2 separate regions of the Homo sapiens genome follow, and region 1 is linked to region 2. A link means that fine-mapping ties the variant in region 2 to the expression of a gene that starts in the linked region. Tissue or cell type: nasal epithelium. Region 2 holds a variant in brackets; the other region holds the start of a gene. All regions are shown on one strand. Distances are between the middles of the regions.

Evidence for each region. PIP is the estimated chance that this variant, and not a neighbour inherited with it, causes the effect.
Region 1: TGFBR3 starts here. The variant in region 2 is fine-mapped to the expression of TGFBR3 in nasal epithelium (TOPMed, PIP 0.92).

Annotation. Positions count from the first base shown.
Region 1 is chr1:91,882,373-91,890,479 of GRCh38, forward strand. TGFBR3 (transforming growth factor beta receptor 3) reads right to left here and starts at 3,779. Exons shown (of 17, transcript NM_003243.5): 1 at 3,506-3,779. RefSeq lists enhancers at 2,587-3,350, 3,351-4,113 and silencers at 3,256-3,465, 3,476-3,555, 3,906-4,045.
Region 2 is chr1:91,608,100-91,616,206 of GRCh38, forward strand. No RefSeq gene overlaps it. Among named protein-coding and RNA genes, the nearest start is that of CDC7, 110 kb to the left of the region's middle. RefSeq lists enhancers at 3,141-3,642, 3,643-4,142. The variant G/A (reference allele first, on the strand shown) is at 3,441.

The DNA.
Region 1 (8,107 bases), 270 kb after region 2:
GTGATCCACCTGCCTCGGCCTCCCAACATGCTGGGATTACAGGCGTGAGCCACCACACCCAGCCAAAAACTTTTTTTAAAAGTCAAGTTTGGCCAGGCACCGTGGCTCACGCCTGTAATCCCAGCACTTTGGGAGGCTGAGGTAGGCGGATCACAAGGTCAGGAGATCGAGACCTTCCTGGCTAACACGGTGAAACCCCGTCTCTACTAAAAATACAAAAAAATTAGCCGGGCATGGTGGCGAGTGCCTGTAGTTACAGCTGCTGGGGAGGCTGAGGCAGGAGAATGGCGTGAACCTGGGAGGTGGAGCTTGCAGTGAGCTGAGATTGCACCACTGCACTCCCGCCCGGGCGACAGAGCGAGAGACTCCATCTCAAAAAATAAATAAATAAATAGATAAATGTCAAGTGTGATTTTTTCAAGCATATTCTTATTGTTTATGTTTACAAGTATGAGTATTCATAGACACATCACACTTATACTAGTATCAAATATGATACATCTGAACTACTACTATACTTGAATATTAACGTAAGCCTCTGAGGAATTCACAGTAATAGAACTGCTGTTATTTAGGATTACTGATCCCCTATTGTCTTGCACTTAGAAGATGTTAATGAAAGATGATGACAGGATTGTGAACACACCAACCTCCCTGAGAACAAATTCATTATATTCAGTTTTCTACAAAACACAAATGAGGATCATTACAAAAGGATTCACAACAAATTCCTCTGGATTTCCATTTCTCCCAGGTAAGTTGAAATATTATTCAAACCACACAAAATTAGTTTACATACAAACTTCACTTTTTAAAGAGATGGGGGTCTCACTATGTTACCCAGGCTGGTCTCGAACTCCTTGGCCAAGTGATCCTCCTACCTCAGCCTCCCAAAGTGTTGGAATTACAGGTGTGAGCCACTGTGCCTGGCCTACACACCACTTAAGGAAACAAATTGAAAAAAAACTATATGTGTGTTTATCTATCTGTCCAGCCACCATGGAGTTCTTGACATATATTCAACATACAGGCCCTGTCCTCAAGGTCATTCTTAATCAGTTCAAATTAAATCTAGTCCTCCATTATAAACTCCAAAAGCAACTTAGTTATTTTGCTAGATATTTTGCCCTCCCCTTTCAAACTATATGTTTAATACTCTAAAAACGGGTTTATGCGCCTTATAGATATCAACAGTGTGTTATGCTCCCCCTATTGACTAATATTCAAAATAACAATGAACTCCCCACGGGTTGCCTTTGAAGTGCTGGGATTCAAAACTATGTTGGTGATTTTTATATTTAAAAACATGAGCTGAATCAACAGTTGTTAGGCAAAGCTGCCGTGTAACGGTCAGATTCCATCAAAACAGGAAAAATTAAAGTTGACAAATGTCAAACTGAAGGGCCAAAAAAAAAAAACGCTCAAGCCTTGAAACACTAAACAATGCAGAAATAAAGCCAAAAGCAAAGAACAGCAAGAAATAGAGCAACATCCTTTAACTGACACAATGGCATGAAATCAATTTCATGTTAATAGCCCTTAAGGGGGTAAGAATTATTTCCCTGCCTCCTGTGCCAACCCCAAGCTGTTTCCTAAGGAAGCCAAGTAATGGTGATCAACAATGTCTGGAGAATTAATAAAAGAAATTAAGAATAAAGATCCATGTTGGCCAGGCGTGGTGGCTCACACCTGTAATCCCAGCACTTTGGGAGGCCGAGGCAGGTGGATCACGAGGTCAAGAAATCGAGACCATCCTGGCCAACATGGTGAAACGCCGTCTCTACTAAAAATACAAAAGTTAGCTGGGCGTGGTAGCGCGCGCCTGTAGTCCCAGCTACTCTGGAGGCTGAGTCAGGAGAAACTCTTGAACCCGGGAGGTGGAGGTTGCAGTGAGCCGAGATCGCACCACTGCACTGCAGCCTGGGGACAGAGCGAGACTCTGTCACCAAAAAAAAAAAAAAATTTCCATGTTAATTAATACAAGTCAGAGTTCTATTTATAATTATTTGGGGCCAGTTTCAGAGGAACTTTAATTGGGCACCCTCATAAGTATGTAAAATCGCCTAAATTCATCACAGATACCTTATGTGTGTTTCAAGAGATATGCGTTCAGCTCAAATAGAAAGCTGAAAGATGGGAGAAGATGCATGGACTATGCACACAAATCTATGTACACACAAATCGGCCTGCACTTGCCGCTCTCCGCTGAGGAAGGAAGGTAGCTTTGGAGTCAGAACTAACAGAAAGTTATGTATGATCTTGGACAAGTAACTTAACCTCTAGTGTCTTATCTGTAAAATAGGGTTATTAATAGTGCTTTTCCCATAGAGATGCTGTGAGGATTAAGTGCACACAGTATGGGCTTAGAAAACGTTAGCTGTTATTATTATCCAAAAGAAACAACTGAGTTCACACTGAAGTAACTGTTTGCACTCTGCATTCAGGAAGAAGAAACGGTCTTGACGTGTGTTTTTACTACCTGTGGAGACTTCTCCCAAACCGCTCACTTCTTCGGAAGGACATAAAACTCAGAATACGCCTGGTTCCCCAGCACAGCCTGTCACTCCTACTATCCTCTGCCCTCGCCGCTCCTATCCTGCCACCGCAGGGCTAGCGGCAAGCAGCGCTAACCTCCGTGCGGTGCTTACTCGGTGCCAAGCACTGTTGTAGCACCTCACACACATTAAATCATTAGATGCTCACAGCAACTTTACGGGGCAAGTACTACTATCCTCACTTCACAGCTAGGGAAATGGAACGGTTTTCTTCTTCCAGCTTTTCGTGAGGACACCAAATCCACTAAGTTCTACTTTGCCAAGGTAATTCATGCTTGACACGTCGGCTCCTGACACTATGCGATTCTGCAAAGCGGGGCAAATGCCCTAATAAGATCAAGTCTGCAAGCAGATTCTTCTAGCGACAGTCCAAGATTTCCAAGTTTGTCCTAACCAAATGAATACAAGAAGAGAGCCTTCAAAATAAACCGGGGCGGGGGGGGGCCGAGCTGCAGCTTGCGGCTCAGCCCGCAAGGCACCCTGAGGGCGCGGCCAGCGGGGAACGCAAACCGCGTCCGTGCACGAGTCCGGGAGCCACAGCCTGGGCCACGGCAATTGACTGCGAACCCACAACAAACCATTCCCACCGAAGCTGTCACGCGCCCGGAGGGAAGTGGCCGCCGCGCCCCGCAGGGGTCAGAAGGACCCGCGGAGAGGAAGAGTGAGGGCGGGCGTGGAGAATTCCTCCCCAGCACTGCGCATCGCCGGGGGCACTGCCTGCCCCGTGCGGCCGCTGCCCACGCACCGCTGGCCACCGGTGCCTGCTCCCCGGAGGGTAAACACCGCCCCACCAGCGCCTCCCTCCCAAGGCCGGAGGTCCTGGCGGCTGGAGCGACCCTGGCCGGTAAGTAGGCACTGGCAGCCCGCGCCGCGCCGACGGGCACCCGCGCAGCCTGCAGAGCCCACAGCCCGGGCGGGCTGCAGCGCCGCGGGGCTGGGCCGGCACGTACCTCGGAGGCGGTGTGTCCAGCGGAGATCCACCCGCAGCAAGTTGGAGGAAAGCGGCGGCAAGTTTCCCCGCCCAGCGCTCGGCGGCGGCGAGCTCCGGCAGCTGCTGCGCCGCGGCAAAACTACGCCATCCGGACCCGCTGGGGACTCTCACCTCCTGCAGGGAGCTCCGGGAATCGCGCAGGGAAAGTGGCCGGGGCGCGAGAGCCGCCGACTGCCCTCCTTCACTCGCTGGGAAGAGGAAAGTGCCGCTCGGCGTCCCCGAAACCCTCGATTACCCCCATCAGGCCGACCCGGCGCACTCGCCCTCCCTCGCACACACGCGGGCGGGGACGGGCAGGACGCCACAGCAATCAGCGCGCGGGGGGAAGGGCGCTCCTCCGCCGGCCCCACCGGGGGCTCTCGGCCGCCCAGAAACTCCTCCTCCCGCCTCCCGCCTCCCGCCTCCTCTCTCCTCCCCCTTTGCCTCCGCGGCTGATGGATGAGCCCCGAATGCTGCTCGAGCCTGTGCTTCCCTTCGGGACGAGGAGGCCGAGAGAGAAGGGGCTAGGGGCGCGGCCGGGCTCAGCGTGCCCGGGTTGGGGCGGCCCCTGTCCTGGGGGAAGCGCGAGGGAGACGTGGGCACGAGCTGCGGGGACTCGCTCCCTCAAACGAGGTCCTTTGAACTTTCCAGGGCTCCCTGGAAGAGTTGGATTTTCATTTGGTTCCTTGGTCTTTATATAAAAGTTCTGAAACCTCAGATAATCTGATCACAGCCTCTTGCCCTCTCCCCAGCAGAGCTCCCCCATGCACACATTCATTCTGTCCCTGTGCTTTTTCCCAACCTCCGGTCCCGCTTGTTGTCACGCTCTGATGGTGGGCGCCGGCGGAGTCTTGCCTCTTCCCCTCCAGCAGCTGAGACTGCATTACCCAGCCGTTCCCCCTGCTAGCTAAATAAATTAATACAAATAATGGAGCTAGGTCAGCATTACCGGCGTTACCCGGAGGTGGGCGCGATATGAACGACAGTCTCGGCGGGGCAACGTCCTAAGTACCTGTGCCTGTGCGACGTCCTAAGTACCTGTGCCTGTGAAGTACACGCTGCAGAAGTTGAACTGCTGGCACCAGAACACCACTCTGATACTCTTGCTTACACCCAGTTTTTCTTATTAAAAAGTATACTTAAGTAACAGGACATTGTTTTACAAACAGGCAGGTGAAATGACCGTGGACTGACAGGTTTCAAAGACCAGACTTCCAGTCCTGACTACTGTGCGACCTTCCACAAATGGCTAACGGCTAATACCCGTCAAGGCTCAGTTCAAATGAAGGGCTTGGCCTAGAAGGCTTCTTCCAGTTCTAAAGGGCTATGGACCTATGCCTTTTTTTTTTTTTTTTTTTTTTTTTTTGAGATGGAGTCTCGCCCTGTCGCCCAGGCTGGAGTGCAGTGGCACAATCTCAATCTCAGCTCGCTACAACCTCCGCTTCTCAGGCTCAAGCGATTCTCCCACCTCAGCCTCCTGAGTAGCTGGGATTACTGACAAATGCCACCACGCCCAGCTAACTTTTTGTATTTTTTGTAGAGGGGGTTGGCAGGGCGGGGGTCTCACTTAGTTGCCCAGGCTGGTCTCAAACTCCTGAGCTCAAGAGATTCGCCTGCCTTGGCCTCCCAAAGTGCTGGGATTAGAGGCGTTAGCCGCTGCACCTGGCTCAATCCTAGGCTTTTAATATGTTGGAGAGTAGAATGAGGAGGCTTCTTATGACATGTTATTTGGAAAGTTATTGAGAGAACAGGAAATATTTCTCGTCCTCTTCCTCTTGTACCTATAGGCAGAGAATCCACCCAATTGCAGAATTGGAGATTCATTCACAAAGGTCAAATGTCATCAGTCACCTGAATTACTGCAAAAATCTCCTCACTGAACCATTTTTTTCCTTACCAATATTCATTGAGCACTGACTATGGGAGAGCCCTGAGTCAGGCATTGGGAATACAAGTAGGCATAATATTCTGAAGGAATAAACAGTCCAGATGGAGCTAGCCTCTGCTTTTATAAAGTCTAAGTTTAAGGCCTTAAGATTTCTCCTAGACTCAAATTAAACAGTATTTGATATGGTTTGGCTGTGTCCCCACCCAAATCTCATCTCGAATTGTAAGTCCCACAATCCCCATGTGTCCTAGGAGGAACCCAATGGGAGGTAATTGAATCTTGGGGATGAGTTTTTCCTGTGCTGTTCTCATGATAGTGAATAAGTCTCACGAGATCTGATGGCTTTAAAAACAGGAGTCTCCGTGTACCAGCTCTCTCTGCCTGCTGCCATCCACGTGATATGTGACTTGCTCCTCCTTACCTTCTGCCATGATTGTGAGGTCTCCCCAGCCATGTGGAACTGTAAGTCCAATAAACCTTTCCTTTGTAAATTGCCCAGTCTCGGGTATGTCTTTATCAGCAGCATGAAAACAGACTAATACAGTATTTATGCCTTGTTAACAAGTTTTAGTTTCAAGTACAGATGTGAACACTTGAACTAGGTGTGAATATTTAATCCCACATTTAAATGCATCGGCCAGGTGAGGTGGCTCATGCCTATAATCTCAGCAATTTGGGAAGCCGAGGTGGGTGGATCACTTGAGGTCAGGAGTTCTAGACCAGCCTGACCAACATGGTGAAACCCCATCTCAACTAAAATACAAAAATTAGCCAGGCATGGTGGCGGGCACCTGTAATCCCAGCTACTTGGGAGGCTGAGGCAAGAGAATCGTTTGAACCCAGGAGGCAGAGGTTGCAGTGAGCTGAGATGGTGCCATTGCACTCTAGCCTGGACAAGAGCAACACTCTGTCTCAAAAAAATAAAATTAAATTAAATGTATCAATCATGTTAAGGCCTTCTAAATAAAATGGCCTGGTAGATAATTTAGGAGTGTCTTGTCTTTAAAGAGTGATGAAGTGACTGGTCCCCGTAGAGCCAGATTCACAACAGTAACCATCAACATCTGAGCCAGCGTGGGTACTGAATTCTTTTTTGTTTGTTTGTTTTTGTTTTGAGACAGAGTCTCGCTCTGCTGCCGAGGCTGGAGTGCAGTGGCGCAATCTCAGCTCACTGCAACCTCTGCCTCCTGGGCTCAAGCAATTCTCCTGCCTCAGCCTCCTGAGTAGCTGGGATTGACAAGCACGCACCACCATGCCTGGCTAATTTTTGTATTTTTAGTAGAGACGGGGTTTCATACCATGTTGGCCAGGCTGCTCTCGAACTCCTGACCTCAAGTGATCCACCCGCCTTGGCCTCCCAAACTGCTGAGATTACAGGCATGAGCCACTGCGCCTGGCCATGGGTACTAAATTCTATACATATAAACACATTTACTTCTCACAGCCCTCTAAGAATATGTATAAATGAGGCCGATATACATGCCTTTATACAAACTGAGATCTTGTCCACGATTCAATCTCACATCCACCGACCTCAAAACCTGTCCACGATTCAATCTCACATCCACCGACCTCAAAACCTAAGTCCTTAACCACCAGGTTCTTCTACCTGTCATCAGAAGCTTTATAGACTGGCAAAATAAAAGGGCTCTTTTTTTTAATTCTGAGCTATTTAGTTTCAGTAGATGATATGGAAAAACACAAGAAATTACATCAGTATTTACAAAATTAACAATGTCTACAGAGATGTTTTCTCTTTAAATCTTTACAATATGATATTAAAAGCAGAAATCCAGATACCTCAAGCATAGACGAAAGGTTTAAAATAAACTTGAATTTTTGGTTCCTGAGCAAAGCTCTATAAAAAAGGGTTCCCCTACCTCTTTTCTTTCTTTCTTTCTTTTTTGAGACGGAGTTTCCCTCTTGTTGCCCAGACTAGAGTGCAGCAGCGCGATCTCAGCTCACTGCAACCCCCACCCCCACCTCCCAGGTTCAAGTGATTCTCATGCCTCAGCCTCTCAAGTAGCTGGGATTACCAGCACCCACCACCATGCCTGGTTGATATTTGTATTTTCAGTAGAGACAGGGTTTTGCCATAACTCCTGACCTCAAGTGATCCACCCACCTTGGCCTCCCACAGTGTTGGGATTACAGGCGTGAGCTGCCGTGCCCAGTTGCCCAACCTCTTATTAATGGCAATATTAACTGATTTCTAAGGGAATGGATGCTCCCTTTCACTAATTTCTCATGGAGAACTGCATTCAAGCTACAGTATTTGTTACTGTAAGATACCAGCTTTCTTTTGGTCCAAAGTGGTTTCTTGGTCATTTGTTTGGAATTGTTTCAAACAGGATTGTAAGCAGGGGGGTGAAATTGAGGTGCATTACTTGCATTAAAAATGTTTGCCAGCAGAGTTTCAGTGATTTACTGAGGCTGTTTTTCATACAAGGAACCACCCCTCCTGTAGGTGTGGACTCACATGTTGACAGTGACTCAGATTTAGTGGCATGTCTCCAGATTCTGTTGATTAGCAGTTCACAGTCTGCTAATCAGACTTTCTTTAATCAGATAAAGTCTAAAAGACTTTATCATTAGAAAAATCATTTGGTTGTTTCTCTATAATCTTTTTTTTTTTTTTTTTTTTTTTTTTTGAGACACAGTTTCCGTCTTGTTGCCCAGGCCGGAGTGCAGTGG
Region 2 (8,107 bases):
TTTATTGATTATGGCCATTCTTGCAGGAGTAAGGTGATATCATGTTGTGGTTTTGATTTGCATTTCCCTGATCATTAATGATGTTGAACATTTTTTCATATGTTTGTTGGCCATTTGTATATCTTCTTTTGAGAATTGTCTATTCATGTCCTTAGCCCACTTTTGATAGGACTGTTTGTTTTTCTCTTGCTCATTTGTTTGAGCTCTTTTTAGATTCTGGATATTAGTCCTTTGTCAGATGTATAGATTGTGAAGATTTTCTCCCACTCTGTGGGTTGTCTGTTTACTCTGATGACTGTTCCTTTTGCTGTGCAAAAGTTCTTCAGTTTAATTAAGTCCTAGCTATTTATCTTTGTTTTTGTTGCATTTGCTTTTGGGTTCTTGGTCATGAAATCTTTGCCTAGGCCAATGTCTAGAAGGGTTTGTCCAATGTTATCTTAGAGAATTTTTATAATTTCAGGCTTTAGATTTAAGTCCTTGATCCATCTTGAGTTGATTTTTGTATAAGGTGAGAGATGAGGATCCAGTTTCATTATCCTGTATGTGGCTAGCCAATTATCCCAGCACCATTTGTTGAACAGGCAGTCTTTTCCGCACTTTATGTTTTTGTTTGCCAAGCCTGATTTTTAATGACTACAGATTATTCCATTTATGGGTACACCACAATTTATCTAATCATTCTCTTGTGGGTAGACATTTAGGTTACTTATGATTTATTAATATAATAAAAATATACATGTATTGTGTATCAAAGTTAGACACATATATATGAAAGATGAGCAGCTTCTCAAAAGCTGTGTATTTGTTTCCAAAGGCTGGTGCCCTGCAGTGGCCACACGAGGACCTTCAGAATGTACACATAGTGACTAATGGTAACACTGGAAATCATCAAACTGCCAGGGTCCTGCCAGCACTCAGCATTTGCTCTTCCACATGAGAAAGTCCCTACAGGGAATGGGAGTTAATGTCAGCATGTCAGTACATACAGTCTGTTCTCAGTGAATCTGGAAGCTTGTCTTCCTAGATGCCTATGGCTGAGTCGCTGAAAAGATTTTTGACTCAGGGCTTCAGAAGATACCTCAGTGCTAAATCACCCAGAGCAGCGTTTCAGATTCAGAAGCTGCGTCACCTGTGGGCAGAACAGAACTCAGCTACGGACTTAAAGTTCCAGAGCTCAGTAGCATCAAAGCACAAGGGACAGAGACCCAAAGGATCCATGAATGGGGACTGAGACCCGAAGGATCCATGAATGAGGGCTGAGCCATGTGGTGTGTACACACCCACAACATGTGAGTGAGAGCTGCGCCCACAATCTCCTGTAGGTCAGCCTCCAGGCCATGCAGACAGCCCCATACCCTAAATCCCATGTACGCCATCTACGTTTCTTCTCTCTACTTTGTTTAATAAATCAAAAATTGGCTAAAGGGAGGAGGTGGTCAAGGATGCCATGACCCACTAAACAGTCTAAACAGAACGCAGCAATGTCACTACACTAGAGCTGGAAATGGGGTAGCAGAATGCCAGCTCCCATAGCAAACCCCAGGATGAAAGTGAAAGCTGGGGTGAAAAGGCCTAGAACTTGCTTCCAGAGCACAGGTGACAGAATCCCTGAACGTGAAACATTCTTCTCTCGGGGATGATGACTTAGCACTGAGGTATCTTCTGGAGCCCTGAGTCACTCAGCTCCAGGAATGATGGGTGTGGACCAGACTGGAAATTCACTGGACCGTTTTCAGTGTAACTTGGACCCAACCTAAGCATCTGGGGGACCTGGAAGAGACCCATGTCATCTGGTCTAGGCCCCAGTTCCAGGCAAATGGTAGAAAAGCTTTTCGTTATGGGATGACTCTGATCCTGAGCTGACAGGAGAATCCCATAGAATTGAGACGCTCCAGCACCACCTTGGATTTTGCCCCACTGTCTGGTTCTGTGAAAGAGCGAAAAAAGTCAGGATGAATGAACCAGTGCATGAACAAATACATCATAGCCTTCCTTCCTCCGCAAAGGTAGAATCTTGGCAGTAGCCATCTGCCAGGGCAAGGAATGGCCTGAGAGGGTTAGGGGAGAGGCAGAGATGTCTAGGAAGTCATGAGGCTGCCACACAGTAGGAAGAGGAAGGCCTTCCATCTGCGGCTCCAGCCACAATTCAGGAGATCCCTGAGCTCCACCCATGGAAGCTTGGACAAGCCACATCTCTGTTCCTAATATGTTCCTACATATGTTCTCTAATCTCTAATATGGGAAGAATAGTCACAGCTTCCCTGCTTCCTCTGTGAGATAACACAGTCTTAACTGTTTTCACTGAAAAGTTGTCAGTGCACCCACAACTCCACCCTCCCTACTGACTCTGGGGCTGGCGAGCAGCCTTTCCCAATGTAATTATGGTTTCAGAACTTGATTTGATCCGTGTAATAAGCAAAACCATGTAATGAAAAGCCATGTTAAATGGAAATCCCATCCGAGTATTTTTGTGCTGGATCTTAGGAAGAACTCAAAGTGGGACACGTGAGGAGAGGACTGTGCTGATGAGAGCAAAGGAGAGAGCTGGGGTCTTGGAATAGGAAAAGGCCCATAGGTACTAGGAAGCTAATGAGTAACTAGCCATGGGCTACTGTGGTAAGAAGGGCAAGTATTTTGGATAAAACATGGAAGGGCTTCTTAACAGAAAAGGTTTGCTGCTACCAGCTGACCATACTATAAATCTTGCATTAATGCATTCACTTACTCATAAGTATTTAACATGCCCACCCCACTACTCTTGCTCAGGGACTGGGAGAGGAGAAGTACAAAGCTGTACTTTGAAAGTACCCTAGAAAGGGAGTTTGAAGGACTTGGCCACGATCTTACAGGCCTTATATTGGACAGACAATGCAGCCTGCTAGGGGTAGCGCACACAGCCAGGCTGCCTGGGCCCAGATCTGCCGTTTATGAGCTCTGCAACCTTGGGCAAGTTGCTTAATCATGCTGCGCTTCAGTTTCCTCACTTAGAAAGTAGAGATAACAATAGTCATTTTTTCATTAGGCTGTCGTGGGGAATAAACGATTTAATACATGAAAAGTATTTATAATAGAACAGAGCCTGCCACATCATATGTGCCCAATAATGTTAGCAATTATTGTTCCCTAGAAAGGGAGTTTTCAAGGAGGTGGCATCATCATCCAACATCAGCAGATTATTCCATGCATCGCAAAGTCAAATTTAACATTTTGCTTTTTTCTATTATATATAATAAACTTATTTGCTCACTTCTAACATTTGTCATTTTCAGCCTTCATTTTACCAGCACAGACTCTAGCTCTCGGTATTTGGGCCTTAAGATCTTCACAAACAAACAAATCTTTCTGAAATAGAAAAAAAAAAAAACAGACCCAAAAATCTAACACTATAGTGACCTCCTACTAGGCTTTAAGTTTAAACGGATTAGGGCAGGAAGTTTTAC[G/A]TTCCTGTCGTATTTGCTGAAGGTGTATGGCAGGGTGCGGCGCCTGTTGCAGGATTCCAGCAGGGCCTGCCCTGGCTCCCCAGGGCTTTGCAAGGAAGCTGGAGAAGTCCGCCACCTCGCTGTCACTGCACATCAGTAGACCCCTATCCCCACCCGCAAACTCAGGGCACCCACAGTCTCTCCAAGGACTGCAGTTTTGTCGCCAGATTGTGGGAACATCTGTCTTGAATCTAAAGAGACAAAACAGATGGGCTTGGTTTCGGAGTTCCGCCCACTCCCCAGTGTGCTGTTGTTAGTGACCACAGGAGTGGGAGCAGTCCAGAGAGGTTCAGCCCAGGAACTCATTAAACTAAGCTCCTCCGAAAGGCACCTTCCAGTGTGGATGGGGGCAAGGAGGGAGGAGGGCAACTGGGGCCCAGCAGAACTCCTTCCTCCCAGAGCCCTTACAAAGGCAAGGGAGGTCGGCCTGGGCCAAGCTCCCCGCCCACCCTCCCAGCTTTGCACCCCCTTCTCAGCCAGACCCACTGCCCTCTCACAATGCAGAAATGAAGATGGAAGGAAACAGGGAACATGCAACCGCCAGACTCCCTCTGGAGCCCAAGTAACTGTTCCACAGTGTGCATAAAGGGGCCAAGCTGGTGCTCCTCCGGCTTGATGGAGTTGGTCAGTAGAAACTAGGATGTCCCAACCTTGTGATCCGTGGTCCATGCAGCACATTGTAGAGACATTGGTTGACTTTTCCATGAGTTAAACCCTGTCTGGGGATGGCATCCCAGACCCAGTCCGGAATGAAGGACATGACTGAGTAATAAGGGGACTGTGTGCTTAACAGAAGACATGACTGAGTAATAAGGGGGCTGTGTGGTTAATAGAAGCCCTGTGTTGCCGAATCAGGCTCACACTGGAGCCATGCAGCACCTCACAAGGGGAGCTGAACTCCGACAAGCACCACCGCCCTGATGTGCAACTGTGTTGAACAGCCTGGCCTAGAGCAAAGTCACCAGGATCACCAAGTAAAGCTTCCCTTATTTGAAAAACTCACATATAAATATTATGACCTAGTCTGCTCACCCTCATATTTTAGAATAATATTAGGATAACAATAATAGCTGCCACTTGGGGGCTTACTATATGTCAGATAATATACCAGCCATTTTTCCAATATTATCTCATTTAGTATTCATGAAAATTCTAGCGTTTTTTTAATCCCATTGTTCAGATGGTAAAATTGAGAATTGAAGAAACTAAGTAATTTCCCCAAGATGACATATCTGGTAAAGGGCAGAGACAGGATTTTAAACCAGATCTGTTTGATGTCAAAACTCACATTCTCTCTCCCCACAAAACCCTCCACGTGCTGCACAGTGACACAGTTCAGACAAGGACTAAATTCTATGGAAATAGTGAAAATACCTGGATTTCTAAACTCTTGGCTAAATAAAGGGCTTGTCTCTAGTTCCCTCGTGAAAAGTTGAGGCCAGGTGCAACGGCTCACACCTGTAATCCCAGCACTTTGGGAGCGGAAGGCAGGCGGATGGCTTGAGCCCAGGAGTTTAAGACCAGCCTGAGCAACATAGTGAGACCCCGCCTCTGCGAAAAATAAAAAATTAGCTGGGCCTGGTGGCACACACTGGTAGTCCCAGCTACTCAGAAGGCTGAGGTAGGAGGATCACTTGAGCATGGAAGATCAAGTTTGCAGTGAGCCATGATGATGCCACTGCACTCCAGTCTTGACAACAGAGCAAGATCATCTAAAAAAAAAAAAAAACAGACAAAAAAAGAGGCCAGACATGGTGGCTCACACCTGTAATCCCAGCACTTTGGGAGGCCAAGGCAGGAGGATCACTTGAGGTCAGGAGTTTGAGACCAGCCTGGCCAACGTGGTGAAACAACATCTCTACCAAAAATACAAAAAAATTAGCCCAGTATGGTGGCATGCACCTGTAATCCCAGGTACTCAGGAGGCTGAGGCAGAAGAATCACTTGAACCCATGAGGCGGAGGTTGCAATGAGCCAAGATGGCACCACTGCACTCAGCCCGGGCAACAAGAGTGAAACTCCATTTCCAAAGAAAAAAAAAAAAGAAAGTTGAAGTAAGGAGGCCCAAAACCTTAGTCTCAGATCTATCCTTCTAAATACTAGGAGTCTTCTGGGTGATGCGGATGAAATCACAGGCTGAGATACAGATAGAATTCCAACTCTTCAGTGCCTCATACCAGCTTGGAGCCACATGCTGCTCTGTCACTCCCATCCCCCAGGGACCAGCCTTCCCAAAGGGTGTGGTCATTGTTTAGAATGTGCCACTCCTCTGGGTGTAGGTTTTCCCCTCAAATCACTGCAAATACTGCTGAAAGAAAATGTGGCCTTTACCTCCCATCAGTGAGGTGATTTAAACTCTCACTCTCAGACCTTAGCTTCCTCTGCCTTGGAGGATTTGATCAAGTTGAGTGGAAAGAATAGCAAGTATTTTTACAGTACTTTACATGGCTTTGCATGCAAATTGCTGGGTTTTTTTTTAATAGATCAAAAGCAGTCAAACATCAGCAACTTCATATGATTCTTTACCTTATGTGAAGATTGTTGACTGACTCAATCAATTACCAGTTAATCCAGCCAGCCAGCTAACTGGGGAAACAAAACTATTATAACTCATGAAGTAATTATAGGACTAAATGATGTGGTGATGGCATTTTACAAAGCAATATTTCCAAGTGTTATCTTGCTTAATCTTCACATCTGCCCCACTGAGGGGCTCTGTGTCATCTCCACATTACTAAATTCACTGGGCTTCTATGTGGCAGAACCAGGTGAGTCCTTCAAAATACTTCAAATTCTCCAAGGCAGCTCAGGCTGCCCCTTACCAGTCGCCACGGTGCTTAGATGGGCAGAGAGGAAGGGAGCAGCATACGCACAGGGTCAGATGACACTCAGCCTCATCGAGGATGCAGAGAGAAAATAACTCAATGGAGAGAAGCAAGCATTAGGGGGGTTAAATGACCAGGTTGGTGGGGGGAATTAAATTATAGACGGTCTTAAAAAACAGGCAGGGGAGGTTTTTCTGTTTTTGTTTTCGTTTTGTTTTGTTTTGTTTTGTTTTGTTTTAAAGACAGGATCGCACTCTGTTGCCCAGGCTGGAGTACAGTGGCACCAACATAGCTCACTGTAACTTCAAACTCCAGGACTCAAGCGATCCTACCGCTTCAGCTTCCTGAGAAGCTGGGACTACAGGCGCATGCCACCACGTCTGACTAATTTTTGTTTTTATTTTTTGTGGAGATGGGGTCTCAAACTCCTGTCCTCAAGCAATCCTCCCATCTTAGAGTTTGCCTTTTAAAGTCATCATCCTTAGAACTGGAAGAAACTAAAAGAGATGTCCTGTTCTAGCCCACAGATTTCACACAGGAAAGAGCTACCTTCTTCATTTTACAAAATAAACAACTGAGGCTCACAGATTTGGTTAGATGTAGAGGGTAGGCTAGAATGATGATTCCTCACTCCCTTGTCTGTTACTTTTTTTTTTTTTTGAGACGGAATCTCACTCTATCGCCAGGCTGGAGTGCTGTGGTGCAATCTTGGCTCACTGCAACCTCCGACTCCCTGGTTCAAGTGATTCTCCTGCCTCAGCTTCCCGAGTAGCTGGGATTTCAGGCATGTGCCACCACACCTAGCTAATTTTTGTATTTTTAGTAGAGGCGGGGTTTCACCATGTTGGCCAGGCTGGTCTCAATCTCCCAACCTCATGATCCGCCCGCCTCGGCCTCCCAAAGTGCTGGGATTACAGGCGTGAGCCACTGTGCCCGGCCTGTCTGTTGCTTATTATAGCTCATCGCATTGACCTAGACTTACTCTTAAGATTAAAAAATTACTGTCTTGCCTAACAAGCTGTCTTATGTATAGGCTGTTACTATTTAAAACTATTTCACATTTCCAAAGTGGCAACAAAGATTGTAGGTTCTTAAGGAGAATTTCTTGACAGTGATATAATACAAGTGTTCTAGAAAGATTAGTCTGTCAAAAGCATTCATATAGATCAGAGAAGAGGAAGAGTGGAGTCAGGAAAATAAATAAATTAGTGAGGCTCCAGAAATGCACTGGATATGTGGCCTAGAAGCAATTTCTCTCTATTTTTTTTTTATTTTTTATTTTTGAGACAGGGCCTCACTCTGTCACCCGGGGCCTCACTCTATCACCCAGGCTGGAGTGCAGTGGTGTGATAATAGCTTACTGCAGCCTCAACCTTCTGGGCTTAGGTGATCCTCCCACCTCAGCCACCTGAATAGCTGGGACCACAGGCACGCACCACACACCTGGCTAATTTCTAAATTATTTGTAGAGACGAGATCTCGCTGTTGCCCAGGGCTGCTCTCTGACTCCTGGGCTCAAGCAGTTCTCCTGCCTCGGCCTCCCATAGTGCTGGGGTTATAGGCGTGAGCCAACACACCTGGCCAATTATTTTTTTCTTTTTTTTTTTTTTTGAGACAGGGTCTCACTCTGTCGCCCAGGCTGGAGTGCAGTGGTGTGATCACTGCTCACTGCAACCTCTGCCTCCTGGGCTCAGGTGATCCTCCCACCTCAGCCTCCTAAGTAGCTGGGATCACAAGTGTGCACCACCACACCCAGCTAATTTTTAAATTATTTGTAGAGACCAGATCCCACTCTGTTGCCCA